Regions from separate parts of the Homo sapiens genome. Here region 2 is linked to region 1. Evidence: fine-mapped expression QTL. Tissue or cell type: blood mononuclear cells. Region 1 holds a variant in brackets; the other region holds the start of a gene. All regions are shown on one strand. Distances are from middle to middle. Region 1 overlaps CEP89 (centrosomal protein 89). Region 2 holds the start of SLC7A9 (solute carrier family 7 member 9).

What was found. PIP is the estimated chance that this variant, and not a neighbour inherited with it, causes the effect.
Region 2: it holds the start of SLC7A9, and the variant in region 1 is fine-mapped to the expression of SLC7A9 in blood mononuclear cells (TOPMed, PIP above 0.99).

Annotation. Positions count from the first base shown.
Region 1 is chr19:32,889,444-32,905,238 of GRCh38, forward strand. It overlaps CEP89 (centrosomal protein 89), which reads right to left. Exons shown (of 19, transcript NM_032816.5): 15 at 11,802-11,969; 16 at 10,414-10,555. Among named protein-coding and RNA genes, the nearest start is that of SLC7A9, 28 kb to the left of the region's middle. The variant C/T (reference allele first, on the strand shown) is at 7,336.
Region 2 is chr19:32,866,177-32,881,971 of GRCh38, forward strand. SLC7A9 (solute carrier family 7 member 9) reads right to left here and starts at 3,591. Exons shown (of 13, transcript NM_014270.5): 1 at 3,510-3,591; 2 at 2,272-2,469. The coding sequence starts at 2,358. It overlaps CEP89 (centrosomal protein 89), which reads right to left. Exons shown (of 19, transcript NM_032816.5): 18 at 15,668-15,795; 19 at 9,749-13,202. The coding sequence ends at 12,986. RefSeq lists enhancers at 1,879-2,454, 3,896-4,418, 4,419-4,941, 8,980-9,865.

The sequences.
Region 1 (15,795 bases):
TAAACTTGACAGCCAGGCCATGATAAAGGTCAAGGCAGGAGAAGGGAACACATTTTACTAACAGTTTGTTGGCTCAACAAGTAACTTTTAAATATCTGGAGACAGTCAGTGGCCTCCATTTGTATTTCCATCCTGGGCCCACAAATATTGGGGGTGGGCCGAGAGGAGAGTGTCTGAGGGTCTGGGAGGATCCTGACTTCGTTGTGGAAGCCTGTGATACTCCCTGGCCCATGGGAGAGGCATGGGGCCTGCACCCCAGGGACCGGGATTCCCTGCACGTCCTGCCCTACAAACAAGACGGCTTTGCGTTTACAGTGGCCTCAACATGTGGCGGGCAGGTTCCCAGGAAATCTCTGGATGAAAGGGTTTGTTCGGCCCTTTAGATTTTTCAGCAAGCTTTCTCTTGCCCTCTCCATGTCCCGGTGAGGAAGGCCAGCACACACAGCAGCAGAAGGGAAAATGGGCACTTAATGCTACCACAGAGAGTGCCAGGGTTCAGCTGCCTTTCAGAGGGGCAGCGCTGGGCCAGACACTTGAGTGCCTTCAAGGCTCCATCCATGCTGTGTCAAAGTCAAATTGCTTTCTGGAAGGCTCTGGAAAGGACTCAGAAGTCACCAGTAAAGTATGGCCAGACTGACCACACTCTTATCAGCAATTATTGTAATTTAAAAAACTGTTTTCAGCCGGGCACGGTGGTTCACGCCTGTAATCCCAGCACTTTGGGAGGCTGAGGTGCACAAAGTCAGGAGATCGAGACCATCCTGGCTAACATGGTGAAATCCCGTCTCTACCTAAACTACAAAAAAATTAGCCAGGTGTGGTGGCATGCGCCTATAGTCCCAGCTACTCAGGAGGCTGAGGCAGGAGAATCACTTGAACCCAGGAGGCGGAGGTTGCAGTGAGCCAAGATTGTGCCACTGCACTTCAGCCTGGGTGACACAGCGAGACTCCATCTCAAAAACCAAACAAACAAACAAACAAAAACCTGTTTTCAGGAGGAAGGCTCAGGGTGGCTGGCTGGAGGCACAGGATGTCAGACTCCTCCACACAGGAGAACCAAAACAGGAGTCAGTCATCGCACGGAGAACATCTAACGGAGACCACGGGAACTCGACAGGGGAGGGCTGGGCGGCACCCGCGCAATGAAGGAGAGGGAGACGACAGCCCAGACAGGATGGGTCTTGGTCGGGAGCCTGGAGAGGCTCCCCTGTGTCGGGAAAGGGTGAGAGATCCCCAGGGGTCCACATTCTCACCACACACTCCTGTGATCCCAGCCCCAGGGGAGCCCCTCAACCCCTGCAGGCCCTGAGACTGGTGCAGGGAGCTCCCTGGAGTCTGTGTGACCCCACTGCTCCAGAGCGGGGGCTCACGCTGGGTCCCACACTGACCCAGGTTCCAGGTAGCTGCAGCACAGTGGCATCATTTTGAGAGTCCAGCCCCCACCAGACTACATCCTGCCCTGGGACCCAGCAGCCCCTGCATCTCCACATCCCTGGAGCGCCACGGACATCTCCCCACATGCACCCGGAAGGCTGCAGCGGCGAGGCACCAGGTGGACCCAGTGGAGCAGCGGGTCCCCAGCACTCTACCCTACAGTGTCCTGCATACCCAGAAGAGTGTGGTGCAGTGCACTGAAGAGGCTGCCCATGAGAGCAAGGGAGCCGAAGCAAGTGCTCCCCAATCCTGAAACCTGCCTGGCTGGGGCCCCTGTCACTAACAGCAACCCCACCCCCTCCAGCCGCAGAGCCCTGCGCACGTGCATGTGCCCTGAAGACAGGCTTCCCCTGCCCAATGCCTCCATTGCCAAAGCAACCCAAGCACACCACCCAGGGCCTGGGGATCACCCCATCCTCTTCACCACAGCCTGCAGGGAGTGTCCCACCATGTTGGTTGCCCCAGGCACACACACAAACACACACACACACACACATACACCAATACAAAAAATTAGAATAAGTGACTGTTACACTTGATTTGCAGAAATCAATGAAAGGACATAATAAACATGACAAAGCAAGGCAATATGACACCTCCAAAGGAACATAATAATTCTCCAACAGCAGATTCCAACAACAACAAAAAGAAATTTATGAAATGCCTGAAAAAGAATTAAAAATAATGATATTAAAGAAGCTCAGTAAAATATAACAGAACACAAATAAACACTATAAAGAAATCAGAAAAACAATTCAGGATATGAATGAGGAATTCATCGAAGAGACAGATATAAAAAAGAACTAAACAGAAATCCTGGAACTGAAGAATTCAATGAATAAAATAAAAAATACAATTGAGAGCTTCAGTGATAGACTAGATCAAGCAGGAGAAAGAATTTCTTTTGCTTTTTAAATACTCAGTGAGATGAAAGAGAGAGAGAGAGAAAGAGAGAGAGAAACAGAGAGAGAGAGAGAAAAGGAGCAAAAGAAAGAGAGAAAAATTAAAAAAAAAAATGAAGCATGCCTTCTGGTGTTCCAAGGGGTGAAAAGAAGTTTAATGGCATAAAAAACCTACTCAACAAAATAAGTTGAAAACTTCCCAAGTCTAGCAAGAGATTTCGAAATCCAGATATAGGAAGCTCAGGTTCCCAAAAAGGTCTTCTCCCGACGACATTATAGTCAAACTGTCAGAAGTCAAATACAGAATTCTAAATATATATATATATATTTAGACATACATATATTTAGACATATATATTTAGACATATATATATTTAGACATACATATATTTAGACATATATATTTAGAATATATATTTAGACATATATATATATATATATATATATATATATATATATATATGTCTAGTTACATATAAGGAACTCTCATAAGACTAACAGCGTATTTCTTTCTTTTTTCTTTTTCCTTTTTTTTTCTTTTTGAGATGGAGTCTCACTCTGTTGCCCAGGCTGGAGTGCAGTGGCACTATCTCAGCTCACTGTAGCCTCTGCCTCCTGGGTTCAAGCAATTCTCTGGCCTTAGCCCCCAAAGTAGCTGGGATTACAGGCATGTGCACCACCACAACCAGCTAATTTTTGCATTTTTAGTGGAGATAGGGTTTCGCCATGTTGGCCGGGCTGGTCTTGAACTCCTGACCTCAGATGATCTGCCTGCCTCAGCCTCCCAAAGTGCTGGGATTACAGGTGTGAGCCACTGTGCCCAGCTAATAGTGTATTTCTCAGAAGAAACCTTACAGGCCAGGAGAGAATGAGACGATATATTCAAAGGGCTAAAAGAAAAAAAAAAAAAAAAAACCTGTCAGCCAGCCAAGAATACTATACCCAGCAAAGTTATCCTTCATAAATGAAGGAGTAAAGACTTACAGATAAGCAAACACTGAGAGAATCTGTCACCACTAGACCCATCCTACATGAAATGCTTAAGGGAATCCTACACCTGGAATTGAAAGGACGATATCTACTATCATGAAAACACATGAAATGATAAAACTAACTAGTAGAGCAAGCACACAAATGAGGAAGAGAAGGAACTCAAATGTTATCACTATAGAATAATAAGATAAATAAGAGGAAAAATGATACACAAAACAACCAGAAAACAATCAACAAAATGATAGGAGTAAGTCCTCGCATATCAATAGTAACCTTGAATGTAAATTAATTAAATTTTCCACTTAAAAGATACAGACTGGCTGAATGGATATCAGAAAAAAAAAACACGATTCAACTATGTGCTGCCTACAAGAAACACATTTCACTTGTAAAGATCCATACAGACTGAAAGTAAAGGGATAAAAAAATATTCCATGCAACTGGAAACCAAAAGCAAGCAGGAGTAGCTATACTTGCATGAAATAAAACAAACTTTAAGTCAAAAACTGCGTAAAGAAGGTAATATTATAATAATAAAGGGATAAATTCAATAAGAGGACATATACTCTAAACATATATGCACCCAACACCACAGCATCCAGGTATATAAAGCAAATATTATTAGATCTAAAAGGGGAGATAGACTACAATACAATAATAGTTGGGGACTTCAACACCCTACTCTCAGCAATCAGATCATCAAGACAGAAAACTAACAAAGAAACATTGAATTTAACTGCACTTTAGACAAAATGACCTAATAGACATTTACAAAACATTTCATCCAGTAACGGCAGAATACACATTCTTATCAGATATAGAACATTGTCTAGCATACACTGTGTGTTACGCTACAAAGCAAGCTCAACAAATTTAAAAATACTGACATCATGTCAAGTATCTTCTCAGACCATGGTAGACTAAAACTAGAAAGCAATAACAAGAGGAACTTTGGAAACTGTACAAACATATGAAAATTAAACAACATGTTCCTTAACAATGATTGGGTCAATGAAGAAATTAAGAAGGGTATCAAAAATTTCTTGAAACAAATGAAAACTGAAACACAACATACCAAACACAACATACCAAAACCTATGGGATACAGCAAAAGCAATGCTAAGAGGGAAGTTTATAGCAATAAATGCCTGCATCACAAAAGTGGAAAGATTTCAAATAAACAACCTAATGATGTACCTCAAGGAACTAGATAAACAAGAACAAACAGAACCCAAAATTAGTAGAAAGAAAGAAAAAACAAAGATCAGAGCAGAACTAAGTGAGGCAGGGTGAAACGTTCTTATAGTCCCAGTGACGCAGGAGGCAGGAGGATTGCTTGAATCCAGATGTTCAAGGTTAGCCTGGGCAACATAGTGAAAATCCACTGCTAACAAACTGAAAACCTAGAGAAAATGGATACATTTCTGGACAACATACAACCTACAGAGGCAGGATAAGTAAAGTTATGAGACCATACTGACTTGTCCCCTTTAGTGAAGCCCCACATGCTCCTTTCTCAGTGGGCTCCTTTCATGTGCGCCCTTGTATGTCAGCACCTAACTTATCTTAGCAAGATAAGTAGTCCCACAGGATCCCAGCCAACTACCAGGTGGTTACACGTTCCTGATACCCAATATGGCCTAGGAAAAAGAACAAAAATCCCTTAATCGTAATGTAGCTTCCCCAATCTCCAGCCAATCAACACCAAAAGCCCAAGAAGCTATTAACTACCAATTCCTGCCTGGGCAGGGCTAAAGATATCTCCAGGGTCCTGCATGTACAGCTAGGCACAAGGTTTAGCTTACAGTGAGCTTTTCCTCATTTTAATAGTAAAAAACACACCCTAGGTGGAGGTTTTATATGCTAATTATACATGTGATACATGTTAGAGCATGTACATGCTGAGTGCATGCACCAACCATAGTTCCACCTTTCACACTTGACCTCACCAATACTTTATGAATATGCATGCACAGCTCCTGTAAAGGGCATCCCCTTAAAATATTAGGGTCTGTCTCTTACTCTGTCTCTCAGAGTGACTTCTGCTATGCAATAGACTTCTTCACCTGCTCTTACTTTGGACTAGCTCTCAAATTCTTTTGTGAAGTCAAGAACCTGAACTGGCCCATTGACAACACTACCAAGATTGAATTAGGAAGAAATAGAAAACTTGAACAGACCATTAACAAATAATGAGATTGAATCATTAATAAAAAGTTTCCCAACAAAGAAAAGTCCAGGACCAGATGGTTTTTCTGCCAAATTCTACAAACCTTACAAAGAAGAACTAATACAAATTCTCCTCAAACTATTCCAAAAAAATTTAAGAGGAAGGAATTCTCTCTAATTCTTTCAGGCCAGCAATACCCTGCTACCAAAACCAGACAAGGCCACAATAAAAAAAGAAACCTACAGGCCAATATCCCTAATGAACACAGATGCAAAATCCTCAACAAAATACTAGCAAACCAAATTCAACAGTACATCAAAAAAATAATATGCCATGATCAAGTGGGATCAAGAGATGCAAAGACAGTTCAACATACACAAATCAATAAACATCATAGATCACATCAGCAGAATGAAGGATAAAAACCATATGAGCACACCAATGGAAACAGAAAAAAATTGGATAAAAATTCAACATCCTTCGTGATAAAAACACTTAATAAACTAGACATAGAAGGAACATACCTAACATAATAAAGGCCATATATGACAAACCCACAGCTAACATCATACCGAGTAGGGGAAAGCAAAAAGCCTTTCCTCTCAGAACTGAAACTAGTTAAGGATGACTACTTTCACCACTCTTATTCAGCACAGTACTGGAAGTCCTAGCAAGAGCAGTCAGGCAAGAGAAAGAAATAAAAGTCATCCAAATTAGAAAAGAGAAAGTCAAATTTTTTCTCTTTGCCAATGACATGATCTTATATTTAGAAAAAACTAGACTTCACCAAACGACTCTTAGATCTGATAAAAAAAAAAAAAGTTTAGTAAAGTTGCAGAATACAAAATCAATGTATAAAGATCAGTAGTGTTTCTATACACCAATAATGAATTCCCTGAAAAAGAAATCAAGAAAGCAATCCCATTTACAATAGCTACAAAAAAATACCTAGAAATAAATTTAACCAAAGAAGTTAAAGATTTCTACAAGGAAAGCTACAAACACTGATGAAAGACAATGAAGCTGATTCAAACTAATGGAAAGACATCCCATGATCATGGATGCGAAGAATTAACATCATTAAAATGACCAGACTCCCCAAAGCAATCAGCAGATTCAGTGCAATCCCTATCAGAACATCAATGACGTTTTTCACAGAAATAGAATAAACAATCCTACTTTATACATATGGAACCAAAAAGGAGCCTGAAAAGGCAAATCAGTCCTGAGCAAAAAGAACAAAGCTGAAGGTATTACCCTACCTAACTTCAAAATACATTACAAGGCTATAGTAACCAAAATAGCACAGTATCAGTACAAAATCAGACACATTGGCCAGTGGAACAGAATAAAGCACCAAGAAACGAGCCCACATATTTACTGCCAACTGCTTTTCAACAAAGGCACCAAGAACATACGCTGGGGAAAGGGCACCCTCTTCAATACATGGTGCTGGGAAAATTGGATATCCATATACAGAAAAATGAAATTAGATCTCTATTTCTCATCATATGCAAAAAATCCACTCACAATGGTTTAAAGACTTAAATCTAAGACCTGAAACTATAAAACTACTAGAAGAAAACATAGAGGAAGCACTCTAGGACTTTAGACAAAAATTTCATGGCTAAGACCCCAAAAGCACAGGCAACAAAAACAAAAATAGACAAATGGAACTATATTAAACTAAAAAGCTTCTGTACAGCAAAGGAAACAATCAATAGAATGAAGAGACAACCTGTTGAATGAGACAAAATATTTGCAAAATATTCATTCAACAAGAGGCTAATACCCAGGATATACAAGGAACTCAGTTCTCTCTGTCTCTCTCTCTCT[C/T]TTTTTTTTTTTAAGGAACACAACTCTTAATAGCAAACAAACAAACAAACAAAACCAATCCCATTAAAAAGTGGGCAAAGAATCTAAATAGACATTCCCCAAAAGCAGACATACAAATGGGCAACAGGCATATGAAAAAAATGCTCAACACCACAAATCATCACAGAAATGCAAATCAAAACCACAATGAGATATCATCTTACTCCAGTTAGAATGGCTATCATTAAAAAGACAAAAAATAACAGAGGCTGATGTCAACCTAAAATAATCAAAAGGGTGAGACTCTAGTTTAAAGAGAGTTTATTCAAGCACAAAGTTTGAGGACAGGCCACCCAGGAAGTAGATTCCAAAGAACAGAAGTCTGTGTTCTGAAGTGCACAAGTTTGGGATCGCTAATAGGACCACATGTAGGAAAGCTTAACAGAATTTCAGTGTCTTTCTATGTAAGACTGAATGCATAGTTACAACAATCTAATTAGTTGAGGCAGTCTTTTTCTTTCAGGAAAGGTATATTTAACATTCCACATTGAAGATATAACAGTCATGGGGTCATGGGTGCCATCTGGTCTTAGGTAGAAGAACAATAAAGGAAGCAAGCAGTTCATCTTTATAGATAGATGAGTGACTGGAAGGAGGAGAAGGTCTGGTCTCTGGTTTCTCCTAGTCATTTACAAAACAACAGCAATGAGGAAGAGAACTAACCTATAAGAAGCAGAATAGCCAACAAGCTACATTGCTCAGTCTCCAGGGCTTAACTTCCCCCTTTGCATAATACATTTAGAGGGTCCTGAAATTTTTTTTCTTTTCTTTTTTAAAATTGAGACAGGGTCTTGTTCTATCACCCAGGCTGGAGTACAGTGGAATGATCGACCTCCTAGGCTTAAGTGATCCTCCTTCCTCAGCCTCCTGAGTAGCTGAAACCACAGGCATGCACCACTATGCCTGGCTAAGTTTTTCGTTATTTGTAGAGACAGGTTCTCCCTATCTTGCCCATGCTGGTCTCAAACTCCTGGACCCAAGTGATCCTCCCACCTCAGTTTCTCAAAGTACTGGAATTACAGGAGTGAGCCACCATGCCTGGCCTGAAATTTTACTTTATTTTATTACACTGATGAGGATGTGGAGAAAAGGGAACTTTCATACACTGTTGGTGGGAATGTAAATTAGTACAGCCATTATGGAAAACAGTGTGGAGGTTCCTCAACAAACTAAAAACAATTACCATATGATCCAGCAATCCAACTGCTGGGTATTTATTCACAGGCAAGGAAATCAGTATATCAAAGGGATATCTACACCCCCATGTTTATTGCTGCACAATTCACAGTAGCAAAGATATGAAATGAACCTAAGTGTCCATCAATGGACAAACAGATAAAGAAAATATGCTCTATTTACACAATGAAATATTATTTGGCCATATAAAAGAACAAAACCATGTCATCTACAGCAACATGGATGGAACTGGAGGCCATTACGTTAAGTAAAATAAGCCAGACCTAGAAAGATAAATATGGCATGTACTCATTCATATGTGGGGGCTAAAAAAGTTGACCTCATGGAGGTGGAGATTATAATGATAGCTACCAGAGGCTAGGATGCATGTGGGTATGGGTGTGTTTGTGGGGGGCTGGGGGGCAGGTGGCTGAATGAAGAGAGGTTGCTTAATAGGTATAAGCATACAGTTAGATAGACGAAATAAGTTATCATGTTCGACAGCAGAGTAGGTTGACTAAAGTTAACAACAAAGTATTGTATATTTCAATATAGCTAGCAATGAGGACTTGAAATATTCTCCACACCCAGAAATGATAAATGCTCAGCTGGGTGTGGTGGCTCACACCTGTAATCCCAGCACTCTGGGAGGCCGAGGTGGGCAGATCTCTTGAGGCCAGGAATTCAAGACCAGCCTGGCCAATGTGGCAAAACCTTGTCTCTAGTAAAAATACAAAACCTAGCCAGGTGTGGTGGCATGCACCTGTAGTCCCAGCTACTCGGGAGGCTGAGGCACAAAAATGTCTTGAACCCAGGAAGCGGAGGTTGCAGTGAGCCGAGATCACGCCACTGCACTCCAGCCTGGGTGACAGCGTGAGACTCCATCTTAAAAAAAAAAAAAAAAAAAAGATAAATGCTTGTGGTGATGGATAGCCCAAATACCTGACTTAATTGTTACACATTCTATGCACATTACAAAATATCACATGTACCCCCACATGTGCATGTAAATATATTTAAAATATTTTTTAAAATGTAAAAATATTATGCATTAATAAAAAGATACAATTGTTTAAAAAGAAAAAAATGTTTTGTAACATTTTTTGAGAATGGTATCTCAAGACTGGTTTAATTAGCATTTTTTTTTTTTTTTTAGGGACAGGGTCTTTCTCTGTCTACCAGGCTGCAGTGCAGTAGTACAGTCATAGCTCACTGCAGCCTTCAACTCCCACACTCAAATGAACCTCCTACCTGAGTTTCCTGAGTAGCTGAGACTACAGGTGCATGCCACCATGCCTGGCTAATTTTTAAATTTTTTTTTGTAGAGATGGGTTCTCACTATGTTACCCAGACTGGTCTTGAATTCCTGGGCTCAAATGATCCTCCTGCCTCAGCTTCCTGAGTAGCTGGGACTACAGGCACACAGCACCATGCCAGGGTAATACAGTTGAAATTTTAAAATACAGATGGTTCTAGACTTACAACAGGGCTACATCCTGATAAACCCATCATAAATTGAACAAACTGTATATCAAAAATGCATTTAATCCTGGCAATACAGCAGATGGTTCCCAACTTATGATGGTTCAATCTACATTTTTTAAGCTTTATAATGGTGTAAAAGCAATGGGCATTCAGTATCAATGGTAACTTCATTATGAGTTGTAAGGAGTTCCTCAATTTATAATAAGATTACTTCCCAATAAATACATCATAAAGTCGAAAATTCCTAGGTGGAACCATCCATCGTAAGTCAGGGAATGCCTGGATAAAGCTTTTAATAGATCATTTTTTAAAATACTCTTAAAATCACATTTGCATATTAACTCGCAGTTTACTTGATGTAACCTTCAGGAAACTTACCAAACACATAAGACTGTCACGTTCCTGGGTTATGTTTTCTGCCAGGCCAACAAGGTTTGCCAGGTACTGATGAGCAGACATTTCGTTCCCCATGGCTTTTTCCACCTGCTTTTTGAGGACCTCAATTTTCTTTTGAGATTTCCTAGAGAGTTACCCCAAATGGTAGAATAAAAAGCCCATTAGTTTACATGGCTAGGGCATGGTGAATATCTGTATTACAAAAACAGCAAGTATGTTAGCATTTAAATGCTATTCTTCAGCAACCTAAATCTTCTATTAAGTTTCAAGGTGAGAAGAGGTAACTGAATTTAATTTGAAACCAAGCATAATTAGTGACCCCAACTCAAGTGAATAAGAGGAGTTGCAAATGTCTAACAATGAATAGGTTCATTTTTTTTTTTTTTTTTGAGACACAGTCTTGCTCTGTCACCCAGGCTGGAGTGCGGTGGCATGATCATGGCTCACTGTAACCTCCGCCTCTCAGGTTCAAGTGATTCTCATGCCTCAGCCTCCTGAGTAGTTGGGATTAGAGGCATGCGCCACCACACGCAGCTAATTTTCTGTATATATACATATATATATTTTTTTAAGTAGCCAGGGCTTCTCTATGTTGGCCAGGCTGGTCTTGAACTCCTGACCTCAAGTGACCTGCCCATCTCAGCCTTACAAAGTGCTGGGATTACAGGTGTGAGCCACCACACCTGGCCCATAGGCTCATTAAGTATTATTCTATTAACTTTCTGGCTTATGTTCTAAAAGGCACTTTCGAAAAAAAGATCCAGAAATTCCAAAGTAGACTTTTAGGAAATGGTTAGAAAAGAGCTCCTAGAACTTTGAATCTTAGGGTTATCAATATGACCATCAACCATATTTCAATTATAGACTTTAGAAATGTTGGTTAACATTGGTTAACAGCAACAATACTTATTATAATCTGATATCCAGTAATTTCAATTACCCTTTTCCATTTTATAGCCACTATTAGAAAAAGAAAAGATTAAAAGAAATGAAATGGAATATTCTTCATTTGTCTTTTTTTTTTTTTTTGAGACAGGGTCTCACTCTGTTGCCCAGGCTGGAGTGCAGTGGCGTGATCTCGGCTCACCGCAACCTCTGCCTCCCAGGCTCAAATGATTCTCCTGCCTCAGCCTCCCGAGTAGCTGGGACTACAGGTGCGTGCCACTACCGCCTGGCTAATTTTTGTATTTTTAGTAGAGACGGGGTTTTGCCATGTTGGCCAGGCTGGTCTTGAACTTCTGACCTCAAATGATCGCCTGCCTCAGCCTCCCAAAGTGCTGGGATTACAGGAGTGAGCCACTGTACCCAGACCATTTGTCTTTTTTAACTATTGAAAATAAAAGCAACTTAAAGGAAAAAAAGACACAAACCTATTGATTTTCTGTGCTCGTTCAAGTTCGGCTTCCAGTGCTTTGTTTTGCTCTGTCAAACTGTTCTTCTCTAACAGCAGGCTCTTCTTCTGCGCTTGCAGGACTGTCAGCTTCTCCATCAACTCCTCCATCTCAGCCCTTTCTTTCTCTTCTTCCTTCTGTAATTGGCTGAAGGACAAAAACATTACATGCTCGTATCCAGCACAATGAAGCTAAAATGGGGCAGTCACATAACGAGGAAGATGAGTGATAACAGCCCAGCCCTCCAGCCCCTGGGTGGGTCACTTGGAATGCCTCTGTGGAAACATCTCCCCATCCTGGGCCCTAGAGGACCTGGGACCAAGCTGCTAGACCACCGGAGAGAGGGTGTGGCTGGGCACACACTACGTGTGTGTCTGTGTGAGACAGGGTCTCACTCTGTTGCCCAGGCTGGAGTGCAGTGGCACAATCATGGCTCACTGCAGCTTCGAACTTCTGGACTCAAGCAATCCTCCTACCTCAGCCTCCCAAGTTGCTGGGACCACAGGCACACATGATACCTGGCTAATTTTTGTATTTTTTGTAAAGATGAAGTCTCACTATGTTGCCCAGGCTGGTTTCGAGCTCTTGGGCTCAAGTGATCCTCCTGCCTTAGCTTTCCAAAGAGCTCGGATTACAGGCATGAGCCACCACACCTGGCCACAAACTTCTTTGATGGTGATGATCTAACCTCTTTTTCTCCCACAGTTTTGGCTTATGTCTCTGTCTCTCTGTCTCTCTCTCTCTCTGTGTGTGTGTGTGTGTGTGTGTGTGTGTGTGTGTATGTGTGTGTATACCCTATTCCTTCCAAAAAATCTAAGATAGCTCTATTTTTTACATGGTTATAAATGCCAGATTTATTTAAAAAAAACCTGCTAAAACAATTTTTCCATAATAATGTAATTATAAATACATGTTTTTAAGACAAAAGAAACAAAGAACAAAGGGGCACTTATTTTGCTGAACACCAGCTTGGGTGTTACCGAATTTGCATAGAGAGTAACTTGGGATAGGGGCTGCATCCTTTACCAGCGCAGCAGGAATACACAACAATATATGATTTTAAGGTTTGTCAACTGTAACTGTAAAACATACAAAATCCAAGATTCATTTATTTCACTGAAAACTTATTTAACTATTATTTTATTGGATAAATTGTTGAACTGGATTAACGATAAAAGGTTAAAGAAGAATGTTGAAAATACCAAGACTTCTGCTTTCAGCCAAGATAGAGTTACAGAGACCAGATTTACTCCTCAGCTAAAAAACCAGGCAAAACAGAAGAAACAACAGTTTTCGGACTTTGGACAACAGGCGAGGCAGGACTGTGATCCCAAAGGGAAGGGAAAACAAGGTGAGTGCTGCAACTGCTCCCTCCACCTTCTTGTCTGGCAGACACCTGCTGAGCCCAGGAGCCAGAGATCCAAGAGCAGGAAGGTCAAGGCAGCTGGAATTTCCAGGGCAGGGCAGAGGGCGTTTCACGGAGCGAGAAAGGGCTCTAGAGACCTTGAAGGGTCTTTGGCTGGGTACTGATCTGTCCGTGTGTGAGAGGAAACTGCGTAAAGCCTAGGAAAGAAACACTACAAACAGTAGGCAGAACAATTTCTGACATGCACAAAGAACAGGAAATAGTTCATACCCCACCAGTCAGAATGGAAAGGCCTTATAATAAAAGAGATATTGGATAGAATCCTTAGAAGAGTGTTACTGTCTTAGCAGTGGGGCTAACTTAGCCCTAAGACTAGAGGTTGCTTTGGGCCCACCCTAACAAAAATCAGCTTTGAAAGAATCCAGCTTAGCCACATGCGGTGGCTCACACCTGTAATCCCAGCACTTTGGGAGGCTGAGGTGGGAGGATCCCTTGAGCCCAGGACCTCAAAACCAGCCTGGGCAACATAACAAGACCCTGTTTCTACAAAAAGAAAAAAAAAAAGAAAACAGAAAAGAAAGTAAACAAATAAATAAATAATCCAACAATTCTCTAGTGGCTTAAGTGTGCACCAGAATGAAATCTAACACTATTTAAAGCAATGCAATATGTCTAACATCCTGTAACATAAAATCTACACCATCCAGCACCCAATCAAGCATGAGAATAAGCAATAAAATATGATCCATGATCAGGAGGGGAAAAAATCAACAGAACAGATTCAGAAGTGAGAGAGATGATGGCGTTGGCAAACAAAGGTTTTTAGAAAAACATGCTCCTACATTTGAGAAAGAAGAGAAAAATAGCATGCTGGGGACAGAGACGGAGAATACAAAAAAGACTCAAATGGATCTTTCTTACAGAGATGGGAAAAATCATTACACAAAGTGAACAATATATTGGATGGGACTAACAGCAGATTAGATTGTAGAAGGATAGATTTGTGAAGTTGAAGAGAGATAGTAATAGACACTGTCTGATTGAAGCCCAGAGAGAAACAAGTGTGGGCTAAAAGTGAACAGAACAGTCAACAGGACAACATCAAGCAGTCCAGGAGAGGTGAGAGGGAAAAACAGAAGAGACCGTTCAAGAAATAATAGCCAAAAGATTTCCAAACTTGATGAAAAATACACACTGATAGCCCCAAGAAGCTTAATGAACTTCATGTAGAGTAAAGAAACCATGCTGGCCGGGTGTGGGGTCCCCCACTGTAATCCCAGCACTTTGGAAGGCCAAGGCAGGAGGCTCCCTCAAGGCCAGGAGTTTGAGACCAGCCTGGGCAACGTAACAAGACTCTGTCTCTACAAAAGATTTAAAAATTAGCCGGGAGCAGTGGCACATGCCTGTAGTCCCAGCTACTCGAGAGGCTGAGGCAGGAGGATCACTTGAGCCCAGGAGGTCAAGGCTGGAGCAAGCAGTGATTGCACCACTGCACTCCAGCCTGTCCAACAGAGCCAGACCCTGTGCAAAAAAGGGTCTGAAAGAAAGAAAGAAACCATGCTAAGGCATATCCCAATTAAAATGCTGAAAAACAGTGACAATGAAAAATTCTTAAAAGAAGCCTCAGAGAAAACACACGTTATCTTCAGAAGAATACAGATAACCGTGACAGCAGATTTTCATCATAAACGACGCAAGCCAAAAGACTATCAACAGCCAGCATCTTTAAAACTGAATGGAAAAAAACCCACAAACTACCAAAAACCTGTCAGCTTGGAATTCTTCACCCAGTGAAATCATGTAATCAATAAAGTTTCATAATTTTCCCAACGGAAGTACTGTAAATCTTTCCACATCTATTTGTGAAGCTTTGTCGATGGTTCCTTCCTTTTAATTAAAAAAATTTTTTCTCATGATGATAGCCTATCATTACCTTAGTTTTCAAAATATCATTTTCTTTCTTCCTTTTTTTTTTTTTTGAGATGGAGTCTCACTCTGTCACCAGGCTGGAATGCAGTGGCGCCACCTCCACTCACTGCAACCTCCGCCTCCCAGGTTCAAGCGGTTCTCCTGCCTCAGCCTCCCAAGTAGCTGGGACTACAGGCATGCGCCATCACACCCAGCGAATTTTTGTATTTTTAGTAGAGATGGGGTTTCACCCTGTTAGCCAGGATGGTCTCGATCTCTTGACTTCATGATCCACCTGCCTCAGCCTCCCAAAGTGCTGGGATTACAGGTGTAAGCCACCAGGCCTGGCCCAAAATACCATTTTCTACACATTTTTTTCCTACAAAGAAATACAATTAATTTTTATAAATTTTCTGTTTTGAACAATTTTGCTAAAACCTCTTATTTTTAATGATTTGTAGATTTGTTTTCTACAGATAGAATTATGTCATTTATGAATAATGACACTATTGTTTTCCCTTTTCCCAAACCTTCTAAGTTTTTCATGCCACGTGTGTCAGTTACCACTTGGTAGCCAGTGCTGTTAATGTTGTCAGAAATGGTGTCAGAGGGCAACCTTGTATTGTTTCCAATCTCAATAGGAAAGCTTTCAACATTTCCCTATTTGGTGTGATCTTTATTGTAGCTGTATTTTTTAAT
Region 2 (15,795 bases), 23 kb before region 1:
CAGGCTGCCACCCTGAGGACTCTGCACACACCAGTGGGATCCCTGGGGAGCAGCGTCTGCTTTCAGGGCCAGGGCGCACTTCCAGGACAGGGCGGGGATGGGCTCAGCTCTCCTCCTCATCTCAGCCCTGCCCAGGACTGGCAGTTTGGCTCCAGAATCCTCCCTCCTGCTGAGGGACTGCCTGGGTTCTGATGTGGGTGAGGTCTGCATTCGCCCTGAAGCTGCCTGACTGAGGAGTAGACCCAGCTCAGATTTTTGGTTTTTAGAGTCAGGGTCTCGCTCTGTCACCCAGGCTTGGAGTGCAATGGCGCGATCATGACTCACTGCAGCCTCGATCTCCTGGGCTCAAGGGATCCTCCCACCTCAGCCTCCCAAAGTGCTAAGGTTACAGGCGTGTGCCGCCACACCTGTCCCCAGCTCAGAAGACACATCTTGGGGATTTCTCAGCTGTGCTCTGTGGCCACTGGGGCCCACCAGGGTTCTAAGAGGCCCTTCCTGAGATCAGGCCTGAGACTGGCAGAGAGGGAAAGTGCTGCAGCCCATCGTCTACCTCCTGGGGGTCCCAGGCCAAGCCATTCAGGCCATTGCCAGCCCTCCGGTCAAGCCCTAAAGCCTTGGTGCCGTCCCTCCTCCATCCCCTCTGCTGCCAGGCATGGGAGCTCTCGGAGGCCCTGCCCACACCTCTGCCCTGGAAGCGGAAGCCATCCTGAGCTCACCTGGAGCTGCCTTTCCTCATCCTAGGAGCCTGAAGCCCTCCCTGCGCCTCCATGCTCAGCACCTGCTGCTCCCAACTGCCTGGGACTGGCGCAGTGTGCTGTGTTGAGCTCCTTTCTGCCTTCCCCCCAGCCCCAAGCTCCCTTTCCCTGCAGGCCCAGGGCCAGCCCCAGCTGCTCACTGCAGCCCAACTCAGAGCAGCTGTCCCTGGTAGATGCCTCTAAGACAGAACAGGCTATGCTGGGGGCAGTACTTCCCATCACTACAGCCATTCAGATATAAGGAGGACAGGCATTTAGAGGGGACTCAACCATCAGAACGCCCTCTCTGGCTGGGCACAGCGACTCACGCCTATAATCCCAGCACTTTGGGAGCCTGAGGTGGGAGGATCGCTTGAGCCCGGGAGTTCCAGACCAGCCTGGGCAACACAGCAAGATACTGACTCTACAGAAAGAATTTTTTTGAAAAGTTAAAAATTTGGCAGAGCATGGTGGTGTGCTCCTGTAGTCCCAGCTACTCAGGAGGCTGAGGCAGGAGGATTGCTTGAGTCCAGGAGGTTGACGCTGCAGTGAGCTATGATTGCACCACTGCACTCCAGCCTGGGTGACAGAGTAAGACCCTGACTCTAAAAAAATTTTTTTAAAAATTTTTAAAAAGAACGCCCTTTCTGACCATTCCTGGAAAGGCCATTAGTTTGAACAAAAATACTGGCCCGTCTAGACACTTGCTCAACACACAAAAGCACCTATTTATGAACTTAAAATAATATGCGGGCCGGGCAAGTTGGCTCATGCCTGTAATCCCAACACTTTGGGAGGCCGAGGTGGGCGGATCACTTGAGGCCAGGAATTGGAGACCAGCCTGGCCAATATGGTGAAACCTCGTCTCTACTGAAAATACAAAAATTAGCCAGGCGTAGTGGCACATGCCTGTAGTCCCAGCTACTCAGGAGCTGCTTGAACCCAGGAAGCGGAGGTTGCAGTGAGCTGAGATCATACCACTGCACTCCAGCCTGGGTGACAGAGCAAGACTCTGTCTCAAAAAAAAAAAAAAAAAAAAAAAAGAATATGCAGCCGAGTGCAGTGGCACACGCCTGTAATCCCAGCACTTTGGGAGGATCACCTGAGGCCAAGAGTCTGAGACCAGCCTGGCCAACATGGTGAAACCCTGTCTCTACTAAAAATACAAAAATTAGCCGGGTATGGTGGCGGGTGCTTGTAATCCCAGCTACTCGGGAGGCTGAGTCAGAAGAATCCCTTGAACCGGGGAGGTGAAGGTTGCATTGAGCCGAGATGGCAGCACTGCACTCTAGCCTGGGTGACAGAGCAACACTCCATCTCAAAAAAAAAAAAAAAAAAAAGAAGATGCAGAATTCCCTGGCGAGAGGGAAAGAGAAGTAAGTCCAGAGATTATCCCTTTAAAGATGTACTTCACAAATCAAAGAGTACATCTTCTGCCGTGTCACTAGGGATCGGCCCGGATTTCACTGCCTGCGCCCCTCGTTCAGACGCCCTTGCCTAACCTGCAAAGGGCCTGCCCCACCAGAGACCGCCTTACCTCCTTTTGGAGACTGGTGGTCTTAGGCTCTTGGCTCTGGATCGACTTCTCATCCTCTCTCCGCTTTCTCAGGCCAGTATCCCCCATGTTTCCTCCTGCTGGTTCCAGGAGACTGCAAGGAGGGCGCACAGCTAAATCTTGGTTCAGCAGCAGCAGACAAGACGCAAGTGCAAGCTCGGCCTGGACTAGGGGAGCTGGCTGCAAAAGCACAGTGTTGGTTATTGCTGCAGGTGGGGGCCGCTGCCAGTCCCTCAGGGCTCATGCGCTGGGCCCCAGAGTCAAAGTCAGTCATTAACATTGTCCAGGCAGGGGAACACAGCTCCCCGCTGCTCTCCAAAGCTCAGCTGCTTGCTTAGCTCTCTCCCAGACAGGCCCCGGGAGCCTCCTGGCCCACGTGCCTGTGCCTTGAAAGTCATTCTACCTCTATGGTCAACTTCATTTTTTTTCAAAAGTAAAAAGAAATATTTAACAACATCCCGGGCTGGGCACAGTGGCTCAGGTCTGTAATCCCAGCACTTTCGGAGGCCGAGGTGGGTGGATCACTTGAGCCCAGGAGTTTGAGACCAGCCTGGCTAACATGGCGAACCCCGTCTCTACTAAAAATGCAAAAAAAAAAAAAAAAAAATTAGCTGGGTGTGGTGGTGGGTGCCTGTTAATCCCAGCTACTCGGGAGGCTGAGGCAAGAGAAGCACTTGAACCCTGGAGGCAGAGGCTGCAGTGAGCCAAGATCATGCCACTGCACTCCAGCCTGGGCCACAGAGCGAGATTCTGTTTCAAAAAATATATATATAAAAAATTAAAAAATGAAAATATTGTGGAATGTATTTATCAGAATCAAGTCCAGGTAAGGAGTGTCTGTCTTATAATTCCTTCCCAAGATTAAAGGCACTCCCATACATCACAGATCCACAATACAGGTACTTTTTCTTTGTACTTTTTAAATTTTTACAATATTTTTTATAAAGACGGGAGTGTTGCTATTTGCCCCGGCTGGCCTCAAGCAGTCCTTCCACCTCGGCCTCCCAAAGGGCTGGGATTTCAGGGGTGAGCCACCACGCCTGGCCAGGTACTTTTTCATTGAGTGATGAAAGGAAAGAAAACATTGCCGAGGAAACCCAGTTCCAGACTGAACTAGGAGAAAACCATGCACTCCTGTACCCTCTCTCTAAATAAATTATCTGTCCAGGCCCCGGCCAGGAGAGCCATGAGCCTTTCTATCACCTACTGACCTTACTTACCTTCCTCCGTGACCCTGCAGAGCCGGAGGAGCTGCGGCCCAGCTGACCGCCCGTGCCTGCACGGTCCAACCCTAGAAATGGCCATGTCTTGTGCCCAGGAGCAAAGGAAGTCCAGAAGGTACAGAGGTCAATAAGGGTAATTATTAAACACCTTTTTTTTTTTTTTTGCAATGAAGCTTAGATACGCCACACAAAAAAGGGGAGGGTCAGGAACACCAATTTCTCTCCAAAACCGTTTTTGTTTTGTTCATTTGTGTCTAGGTCAGATTATTTTTTTAAAACCAGATGGTCCCAAATCGTCTACACTTTTTACCTAAAGATAAAATAAATTATGCCTTCTTTTATCTTTGGGAATCAGAGGAGATAAACTTTGGAACCAATTCGCTAATTGCCTTAATAGGCTATATTTAAAACCCAAGTCAGGCAGCTCAAACAGGAACCGCTGTGTGTGCGTAACTCAGCTGTTGGTCAGTTTCCTCCCCGCCCAGGAATTTCCCCCAAGCCAAGGGCCTGCCTCTGGCTGAGCAGGTGAGAGCGGCTGAGCCCGTCCCACTCCTCTTTACCAGTGATGGGGCTTCACCACTTGGAATCACAAGCAGGCCTGAGGCAATGCAGGGCCTCGTGTCCTCCCTGCAGCTGCGGCCAAATGCCCATCAGGTTTGGCTGTGGTGCTGTTCACGTAGCCATGTCCTGGCTCATCACAAGGGACACAAAACCTTCCCCTTCGGGGAAACGGAGGGGGACAGGCAACACAAGGCCAGGAAGCTCCGGTCCGCATCCAGGGCTGCCAGGGTCTGGATCTCTCTGGGAGGGAGCAGAGGTTCTCCCGCACTGCGATTGGACCTAGGCTCAGGCGGCAGCCTCAGGGGTCAGCACGAAGCCCTTTCAGATAGGGAAGGAAGCACCTTATGAGACCTTATGAGACAGCCTGGCACAGCATAAGCACTGCATCTGAAGCATCGTAGCTGTTACCTTCAGCCAAAACTCTGGTAGCTTTGCCTTGGGCCAAACTTAACTGCATCCCAGATATCAGATGGAAGCAAAGGTCAGGGATGGAAGGAGCTGGGCCAGTCTCTGGGGGTCAGTTTGGGAGCAGTTTGGGGCAAGCAGACCTGAGAGAGGCACAGGTTTCTCTGAAAGCCGTCTGCAGAGCACAGGGACCCTTGTTGTCCCAGAGGCACGGTCCTGATTTAGAAGTTCGTCACCTCCCATCTTGGGAGGGCCCACCTGTTTACCTGCCTGCCATGCCCAGAGCCCTGAGCAGAGAGGCTAGTGGCAGGTCCTGCCACCCTAGACAGAACCTGCCCACCGGCTTGCTGGGGTCACTCCTCCTAATGTTGCAGCACTCATCATAGTACCTGGCACATCCATGTTTGCAAAACACCACAGAATACCCCCTGGGTCAAAAGTGCTCCTGGCAGGCTGACAGGAGACCACGTGAGGACATCAGGGTGGGGCAGTGGTCCCCCGCTGGGGCCAGACAGCCCTGCAACCTCACCCACTACCCACATGGGCTCAGGCAGCACTGCCAGGATCAGGGTCTGAACCTGCGACGCAGGGCGAGCAACAGGCGCCTCCTCACGGAACACACTGAACTTGCATGTTCCATGAATGTCCGGGACCAGCCCTCTGGTCTTCCTGGGCCTCTTCCAAGTGCCGAGTCTGGAACATCGGGATGTGAGGGTCCTTTGTTAAGTCAGAAACCTCCACTTCAGTTCATTTTGGGTCCACGGTGAGCATTTCTTAAGCCTGTTTCTTAAAGTTGTGTTTTTCACCGCAGTCCCACCCTCTCCCTCCCTTGAATACACAGAAAGTATTCAAGTAATTCTCATAAGCTCTTCCTCATGGAAAATAATACGGATTTCATTTAAAAAGCAAAATTTTCCTCAGTTCTTGAAGACCATTGGTTCATTGTGTATCCAGTGCTTCTGCCATGTGACTGAAGTTTCACCTCCCTGCTGTCAATTTTTTTTTTTTTAGATGGAGCCTCACTCTGTCGCCCAGGCTGGAGTGCAGTGGCACGATCTCAGCTCACTGCAACCTCTGCCTCCTGGGTTCAAGTGATTCTCCTGTCTCAGCCTCCTGAGTAGCTGGGATTACAGGCATCCACCACCATGCCTGGCTAATTTTTGTATTTTTAGTAGAGATGGGGTTTCACCATGTTGGCCAGGTTGGTCTTGAACTCCTGACCTCAAGTGATCCACCTGCCTCGGCCTCCCAAAGCGCAAATCCTACTGTCATTTTTACCATTTTATTTATTTATTTTTGAGACTTGCTGTGTCACCCAGGCTGGAGTGCAGTGTCATGATCTCAGCTCACTGCAACCTCCGCCTCCCAGGTTCAAGCGATTCTCCTCCCTCAGCCTCCCGAGTAGCTGGTACTACATGTGTGACAATATACCCGGCTAATTTTTGTATTTTTAGTAGAGACAGGGTTTCATCATGTTGGCCAGGCTGATCTTGAACTCCTGACCTCAAGTAATCCACCCGCTTCAGCCTCCCAAAGTGCTGGGATTACAGGTGTGAGCCACCACACCCGCCCAACCACTCTATTTCTTAAGTTTCTGCTAAAGACTCTTGACCTTCATTTTCAACCCGTGCTTTTTCCCTTCCGATTGCAAAAATGCTTGCAGTGTGAAGATCTTCACACCATCTACATTTTATCTTATATTTGGTGCACATTTGATTTCAGTTGGGGAGGGTAAAATGCTTCTCTCCACCCTTTTGGGTTCTTTGGTTGGGCTTCGAATTGAGACTAATGGGAGGAAAACTGTTTTAATTATGTGTATATGCAACTGAGTCCCACAAAACAAGAGACTTGAAGAAGGGCCAGATGACTAAACCCTATATAGCATCCTGAGCTATATAAGGATTAGGGGCTTGGGGCTTCTGGGGCAGGTAGGGACTAGTAATGGGATGGTGAGGGGAGGAAATGCATGGCGAATAAAGGTCGTCTTGTTATGCAGATATAAGTCTCTCAGGTAATAAAAGTTGTCTCTTCCTGGTACAGATACTTGTACTAATGTAGATTTCCTTCATGACATACATTTCTTTTGCAAAGGGCAGCTTTTCAGAGCTACACCTGTTGTGTCTGCAGTTTCTCAGAATAACCAGCTCAAAATATTCCAAAGAAGTATAATTTGGGGTGATATATATCTAGTCTCCTACAGTCATATTTTGGGGGTGGTGTGTCCTGAGCCCCAACATTTCCTTCTCCTGTGATGGTTTGTGTCTGAGACAGGGTCTCTTGCTCCCATGCTAGAGTGCAATGGCGTGATCATGGCTCACTCCAGCCTTGACCTCTTGGGCTCAAGTGATCCTCCCATTTCAGCCTCTCAAAGTGCTGAGATTACAGGCGTAAGCCATTGCACCTGGCCTCCTGTGATGGTTTTAAAGACGTCTTTAATCCCATAGTGTCAGTCCATTTCTGCACAGCCTCTGGGCTGCCCAGCTGGGTGCCTTGTTCTCTAATTCACTGTCCTCGTGACAGAGGCAAGGTCTTGGGCAAACATTCAGGCAGAGGCTGAATCTTCCTTTACCGCTGAAAGCTTGTTCCAGACCTGCCTTCAAGTTTTCACCTTCTCCTATTCATTAAGTTCACTCGGTCTTGTATTCCTTCCCACTGCTGCTGACGGTAGCAGTTGGGGATTTGGAGGGGGACCCAAAAGACAGAAATAACTGGCATACTACCACAGATAGAAGAGTTGTTTGTTCCCTTACTACCTGAATTCCAACCAGAAGAACTTGTGATGAGTTAGCGATGTGCAAAGCCTTTCGATGTCAGGGACGTGCTGTCTAGCCATAAAACAATTAGCAAGGAAAGCATAAACATAATTTCAAAACTCTTATCTAGGAACAATCTATATATATCCAACAACTATTGGAATAGTACAATTCTGCCTTCGAACTTTGTCCATCATTTTTATGTGTTCCAAGTAATATGGTTTTGCATTAAATAACCTGCGTGGGGAAGACAGTTGCAGCATGCTGTCAAAACACGACTTCCCATCCTGCTCCCTTCCCCACCGACCTCGTCACGATTCATGGTCGCTGCCTCTTTTCTCAACCACGGTGGCCACACATGATGAAAGTTGTGATCGCTGCTGATTTTGGGGAAAGAGGGTTCTGTGTCATCAAACATCTTTAATAAAGAGTTACTATTTTGGGGGCCGGGTGCTGTGGCTGTGCGCCTGTAATCTCAGCACTTTGTGAGGCCGAGGCAGGGAGACTGTTTGAGGCCAGGAGTTTGAGACCAACCTGGGCAACATAGCGAGCGCCTGTCTTTACGAAAAGAATTTAAAAATATTATCCAGGCATGATGGTGTGCACCTATAGTCCCAGCTACTCTTGGGAGGCTGGGGCAGGAGGACTGCTTGAGTCCAGGAGTTCAAGGCTGCAGTGAGCTACGATCGTGCCACTGGACTCCAGTCTGGGTGACAGATGGAGACTCTAACATAGGAAGTTACCATTTTTTGTAATCTTGTTTCTGTCTGCCCAGCATCCACAACTTGGGGGGAACTGTCCCTTTCTGTGGGACACTGGTGGGCTACCAACCAAAAGACCTCACTTCTCTGGCCACACAGGAGGGCTCAGGATGTCAGGTCAGCCAAGAGGCCATTGTCTCCCAGGATTTGCTACCTGAGTGAAGCACAGGGTAGGCTGACGGTGTTCAACTACTGAGACCCTCACCCCAAGGCTATTCCAGCTTCTGTCCTTCTCAAAACATGGTGGAAGCCACAGAGTGTACATTTCCAAAATATTTCCTTCTTTCCCTTAACATTGGGCAGTATAGTTCTGTTGCTTGCAACCCAGCCCTGGTATGCTACATATACTACACACAGACCCTTCACTTTCAAAGAATTATTCTTTAATAAAATACTCAGGACCCTCCTGACCAGGTGAAATAGATGCTCCAGGCTCCTGATGACCCAAGGCAGCAATGCTGTCACCTCAGTGCACTCTCCCTGTCTCATCTATACCCTCTGTAGAGTGCTGACACACGGGTGGACTGTGGAACAAGGGGATGGCGGCCCAGAGCACCCAGCACAGACGCGGGGAGCCAGCCTGGGTCCTCAGTAGCAGGTGGCATGCCCAGTTCCAGGAAGCAGCCTCATGCGCTCCGTAGGTTTGAAGTCTCCATAGCCCAGCCTGGGTCCTCACTACCTCTGTCCTGTTGTTTGCAGACATTGGGCCTGCAAAGCAGCCCAGCGGGGCCCTGCAGGTGAATATCAACTACAAAAGCCGCCCTTCTTCTTTCTCTCCAAAACCCTCCTACCCAGTCCACCCCTAGTCAAAAATGAGGAAAAGAGCCGAGCCTGAGGCTGGGGATGGTGGCTCATGCCTGTAATCCCAGCACCTTGGGAGGCTGAGGTGGGCGGATCACTTGAGGTCAGGAGTTTGAGACTAGCCTGGCCAACGTGGCAAAACCCTGTCTCTACTAAAAATAAAAAAAATTAGATGGGCGTGGTGAGACACACCCTGTAATCCCAGCTATTCGGGGGGCTGAGGTGGGAGAATTGCTTGAACCTAGGAGGTGGAGGTTGCAGTGAGCCGAGATCGCACCACTGCACTCCAGCCTGGGTGACAGAGCGAGACTGTCTCAACTAAAAAAAAAAAAAAAGCCAAGCCTGGGAGGCTGGAAGGGCAGCAGGTTTCCTGCCCAGCTTTGGGGCCATGGACTCACACCTTGAGAAAACCAAGAGAGGCCTAACAAGCTGTACCCATCCCCTCTCCCACTCCTGGCTGCAGCCACTCCTTACCTGTGGACCCCTGCCCAGCTGTGACCCAGCAGAGAGGTGCCACAAACCTGGGCACACTGAGCCCTCCCCATGCCGCCCAGCCAAGTTTTGAGTGGATGATGTTTCCAGTCTTACTCAAGAATTCAGATGTCAGCCCAGCCCCATCCCAAGAGGCTCAGCCTCCTGCTGTGGGATCTGTATCCGGCTCAAGCCCTCCCTGCTGGAAGAGCTGCTTGGGCCCAGGGAGGGCTCTCCTGAGCCACCCACACTGGGGACTGTGCCTTTCATTCCCGCCAACGATACAGGTAGGGGAGGGGGTGAGGAGCCAGTGACAGCTGCGCTCGAGGCTAAATGCTAGGCCACCCTCGGCCTTAAATCTCTGTCCTCTCAACACAGTTATTGACAACACCACCAAGCATTGATGAGGATGCGGAGCAACCGGAACTTGCGCGGAGGTTGGTGGTGGGAAAGTAAAATGACACAAACACTCAGGAAGCAGGCCTGGGTGTTATTTCTTTTTTAATTGTCTATATAACAAAATCCACTGTTGTCACTGTTTTCCAGCATACAGTTCAGTGGCGTTAAGGGCATTCAGGACAGCTCTCATGACAGACTCACACCCACATGCACACCTGGTGCCCCAGCCTGCTTTGTCCACTGTCTCCATTTCCCCAGGGCTGCTTTTACTTTTTATTGTATTATTTTTGAGGCAGGGTCTCACCTGGTTGCCCAGGCTGGAGTGCAGTGGCATGATCATAGCTCACTGCAGCCTCAACCTCCCAGGCTCAAGTGATCCTCCCACCTCAGCCTCCTGAGTAGCTGAAACCATAGGCGCCATCACCATGCCCAGGGCTGCTTTTAAATAATGGCAAAGCCAGCAAGGCTCACTCGCGTGCCTGGGTCATGTTCTACAGCTGCTTGACCAGGAATCTTCCAATGCCGTATGAAACCTCACCAGGACCAAGAAAGAGAAGGGTTCCCTGCTCAGACCAGACACTTGCAGCATGGGGAAGGAGGAGCCCCTCCCAGCAGACCCAGTTCTCCTCTGTGCAGTCCGGCCTCATTTCCCACCCAAGCTCTGACCAAACCCCCTCCTGCTGCTCTGAGTGCCTGCTGTGCTCCTGGGGGCCCTCTCCACCCTTCTGTAGCTCCTGAAACCTTGTCCACTCTGCAAGGGCCGGGGCGTGCCAGTTCCTCCCAGAAGCACCCCAATGTTTCTGTCCTTTCCTGGAATCTCACAAGCACCCAGGTGCCTCTCTGCCTTGCCTGCCCCGCCCTCCTTGGCATCCTGGACTCGTGGCTTCTCTGCCCATTTCCTATGGCACCCAGCAGGAGGCTGGGCAGAAGATAGTGTCTGTGGGACACCTGCCCTTGCCCTGGTCACAGTGCCATCCAGGAGTCCCCATACTTGCAAAGTATGTTTGCACTGTGTGAAAAACTTAAAGCAGAAACATAAGAACAAAAGTGGACACTTCTCAAAAGAATAAAATGTTTGCATAAAAGGCAGAAAGACAGGGATGTCAACAGTGGTTCTCTAGGTCACGATGGCGGGAGCAGCATTCCTGCTGACAAGCACTCCTGCCCCGCGCAGCCACGCTGGGCTGCCGCCGCCTGTCAGCCTGTCTACAGGAGGCTGCAGAGCGGCCGTAAATGCCTTTGAAATAGCATCACAGTTATTTGTTAGGTCATCTCCTAGGGAGATGATACACAGTTTTCAATCCCAGTGAGTCTTTCTACCGCTTGTAAAATAAAATTAAATTACAATGATTCAACTGTTGAACAAGCTTATAGAGTCATAAAAGAACTATGATTTTCTATCTCACCCTTCCGTCTGGCAATCAAAGATCACACGTAGAACTTCTACACATGACCAAGGACCAGTACTGGGGCCTCCTTCCCACCTGAAACAAGGCAGGACTTCACTGCGAGGGGCTCTGAAAAGGAGATGCTGCAGGGTGCCACCCCTGAGTCCCACAGTTAGGGTCCTTTGTAGCCCAATGTCCCCAAGTCCCTCCAGCATGCCTGGGACTGAATGGTCCTGAGCGGCTGGGGTAATTTTCCTGAGGAGGTGGCACGTCATCTAACACACATGGGACAGAACCATGGCCCCCTGGTATGCTTCTTGGTGGTGGCAGTGGGGCAGGGACTCTATCTTAGCTCAAAGCCAGGGCTCTCATTACATGGGTGGGGAGCTGTGTGGCTCCAGAATCAATTACCTTCCCAGACCAGGCGCGGTGGCTCATACCTATAATCCCAACACTTTGGGAGGCCTAGGCAGGAGGATTGCTTGAAGCTAGACGTTTGAGACCAGCTTGGGCAACATAGCAAGACCCCATCTCTACCAAAAAAAAAATTTTTTTTTTTTGAGACAAAGTCTCGCTCTTGTTGCCCAGGCTGCCCAGGCTGGGGTATAATGGCGTGATCTTGGTTCACTGCAACCTCCGCCTTCCAGGTTCAAGCAATTCTCCTGCCTCAGCCTCCCAAGTAGCTGGGATTACAGGCACCCACCACCATGCCCAGCTAATTTTTGTATTTTTAGTAGAGATGGGGTTTCACCATGTTGGCCAGGCTGGTCTCGAACTCCTGGCCTCGGGTGATCCGCCTGCCTCGACCTCCCAAAGTGCTGGGATTACAGGAGTGAGCCACCATGGCTGGCCTACAAAAATTTTTTTTTTACAAAATTAGCCAGGCATGTTAGTGTATACCTGTCATCTCACCTACTCAGGAGGCTGGGATGGGAGGATCGCTTGAGCCTGGAGGTCAAGGCTGTGGTGATTGCACCACTGCATTCCAGCCTGGGTAACAGAGTGAGACCCTGTCTCAAAACAAACAAACAAAAGTAACAACTAAACAAAAGAGAATAAAGTACTTGCTCAGGAGGATAGAGAAGGGCTAGGGGAGAGGGCAGAAAAGGTTTGTACAACTTAGAGGGCATGAACAGCAGCAGCACCTTGTTTTTTTTGACCAAACAAGAAAAGGCCCCCAGAGCTCACGCACAGCTATCATCAGGGCCGGTGCCATGGCCTGGCTCCTCGGGTGACACTTCCCCATCTGACACATGGCACGAGGGCTCAGCTGCCCGCCCAACCCTTCCAGCACTTCCCAGCTGCAGATCTAGGAGCTGGAAGGCAGGCCTGCTCAGCAGGCCACCTACTCACCAGAGCAGTGGGTGTCATAGAACTCATCTCAGTGGCAATGTGGCCAGAGAACATGCCCTGGCTAAAACAGATTTCAGCAGCACGTTATTAAAATAAAGCACAATGGGCCAGGCGCAGTGGCTCACACGTGTCATTCCCGCACTTTGGGAGGCCAAGGCAGGAGGACAGATTGAGGCCAGGAGTTCAAGACCAGCCTGAGCAACATAGCAAGACCTCATCTCAACAAAAAAGAAAAAAATTAGCTGGGCCTGACAGTGCACACCTGAGGTCCCAGCTACTCAGGAGGCTGAAGCAGAAGGATCTCAAACATGTTTGAGGCTGCCGTGAGCTATGATTGCACCACTGTACTCCAGCATGGGCAACAGAGTGAGACCCTAGCTCTAAAAAAAAAAAAAAATTAAAAAATAAAGCAAAATGTTATCAATGGATTAAACTATGAGACCATTTATTTCTTCCCTGCCCTGCAGCGTTCAGTGGGCTTACGCACCTCCGGCTGCCACCATGGGCTGCCCTGCAGGGAAGGCCTGTGTGAGGCAGACCTTTCAGGCCAGAGGAGGCTACACCACGGGCTCCCGCAGATTCTAGCAGGTGGGGGCATGAGACTTCAGGTCATAGGAGCAGACATCGCAGCCGTCCAGCAGGTCTGCCTGAGAGACGCCATTGAGGCTGGGGGCAACCAGAGCTCTGGGGTTGTCCTGCACGCCTGTCCTCGTGAGTGTGTCCTGGAGAAGTTCTCGGATTCTTCGGTTTTCCCTGAAGGTAGATTCCCAAATAACTTCAAGTTCACCTTCCATTTCTCTGAGGGAAATAAGTTTAAAATGGCACAATTTTAAAAATAATATAGAGCCCATATGAATCCCAAAGTAGCAAGAACTCAAAACAGAAGAACGCTATCAGCAGGGAACAGAGCCCTCGGTGCCTGGGTTCTGAAGCAAGCGCTCAGTGTGGAATGAAGCAGCTGGTGCCCTGGGAATGGGGAGCAGCAGGACAGCCCAGGCTGGGGCTCAGTGTGGAATGAAGCGGCCAGTGCCCTGGGAATGGGGAGCAGCAGGACGGCACAGGCATTTCTCTTCCCTCTATGTTCTGCCCTTGACTTTGGCGCCAGTGCAATCCCTGTTTTCTCTCAAGAATGAACTTGGGCGTGTCGAATAAGGAACTGCAGGAACTGCAGGGCTGGCCTTGGCCAGCCAGACGCTCTAGCACGATGGCCTGGCCACAGGCACCCACACAGCCCCTCCTGTGTCCCGTCTGCTTGTCCACTGTGACCTGGCCAGCACTCAGTGACCTTCCACAGGTCTTCCGCTCCATACAGCCCAGAGCTAAGAGCGAGTCAGGGGGTGAGGTGGGGGACCTGAGGAGATAAGACTCATTGCCAAGATGGAGAAGATTGGCCTGGCCCATGTGCCGGGATGGGGAGGCCCTGAGGGGCCGAGGCATGTGAGGTTGGAAAGAGCCACAGGGCAGCGTTTCCAGAACCAGGATGCAGTGCCCTGTGGTGTGCTGGGGAGACAGGACAGATGAAGGTGGCCACATCCTCACAGGGCCACAGTCCACTGGGAATAGACCAGGACACGAGCCACACCTCACAAGGTGCTTAGCCCCATCGGGGAGCATGGCCAGGCTGGAGAGGCCAGCTCCTTCCCGGACACTGCCAGATGGTTCTGGAAAATGTTGGAAACTGGATTTGCAGGTGGACTTCGCACCACGGTTTAAAGAGCAGGACACTGAAGTTCAGGGAGGCCAGTGATGTGCCCACTTGGCCAGAGTCACTTTTCTTGTGAACGTTCCTTCCTTCCAAGGCCCCTGATGCCCACTGTGTGGTAAGAACAACTTAATTAAACTATGTCTAAAAAAGCCCCAGCCTGGGCAACATGTGAGACCTCATCTCTACAAAAAACTTAAAAATTAGCTGGGCCCACGTGGTGGCATGCACCTGTATTTCCAGCTACTCGGGAGGCTGAGGCAGAAGGATGACTTGAGCCCAGAAATTTGAGGCTGCAGTGAGCTGAGATTGTGCCACTGTACTTTAGCCCAGGCAACAGAGCAAGACCTTGTATTTAAAAAAAAAAAAAAAAAAAAAATTCCCCAGACTTTGGTTTTCTGAAGATATTTGGTAAATTATAGCAATCATGTTTAAATGTATGGCTGAACTCGAAAGAACAGGCAGTCTCTAAGGGCAGAAAAAATGAAGCCTAAACTGAAACCAAAGAGGCAGACAAAGTATCAGTTGCTTTGAGGACAAAAGTCAATGCCAAACCCTGGATGTTTGTAGACTGAGAGATCGTGCAGATCAAGAGTGACAGAAAATCTCAGGACCCACTCTTGTCCAAGTTTCTCTTCCTACTAGAGGCACTGTGAAGGTAGGTAAGTGGAGGATGTGAAGGACCCTCAAAGAAAGGAGGGGTGGGTGGGAGACCTGCAGATCTTCAAAGGAAACCTGTTCTGAAAGGCCAGGCATCACCTGGGGACTAGAGCCACCGGCCTGCTCTCAAATGGATCTGGAGTGAGTCTACACTGTTCCCCATGAGTGGGGATCCCCAGGCCCTGACTGCAGTGAATGAAGAGTTTAAAAAAGTTGGGCACAGTGGCTCATGCTTGTAATCCCTGCTACTTGGGAAGCTAAGGCAGGAGGATGGCTTGAGCCCAGGAGTTTGAGGCTGCAGTAAGCTATGATCACACCACTGCACTCCAGCCTGGGCAACAGAGCCAGACCCTGTCTATAAGTAGTAATAATAATAATAATAATAGAAATAACAGAAATAAAATACCTAATCAAAAATTAATAAAATCTCTCAAGAAAATGAAACAAAACTGGCTCATGCCTATAATCCCAGCTATACTCAGGAGGCTGAGGTGGGAGAACCGCTTGAATCCGGGAGGCGGAGGTTGCAGTGAGCCGAGATCGTGCCACTGCACTCCAGCCTGGGAGACAGAGTGAGATGCTGTCTCAAAAAATAAAATAAAAAGAAAATGAGACAAAATAAAAATATCAGTGAGATGGAAGGCAGCAGAAAAAAAGAGAAAGGCAATTAGAGGTGTGCATTGATTCCGGAAGTCCAGTTCAAACAAGAGGAATTTTTAAAAGAATAAAGAAGATGAGGAGCAAATAAAACTTGAGACCAATATTACATTCAGATCAGAGTAAAATGTAGAAACAAAATTAAACAATGGAACAAATAAAACAGGCCCAGAGGGTTTTAGCAGAACCCTCAATCAGACATTCAGACATCTCTGCGGGCCATGGCGCAGGGCGCATGCCCCACCTGTTCTGCTGCAGCGCCTGGTCCAGCACCTCCTGCTTGTCCTTCAGCACCTGGTGCAGGTGCCGCATCTCCTGCCGGTACTGGGCTGTCTTGCCGGCGAAGTCCTCCTGCTGCTCCAGCAGACGGTG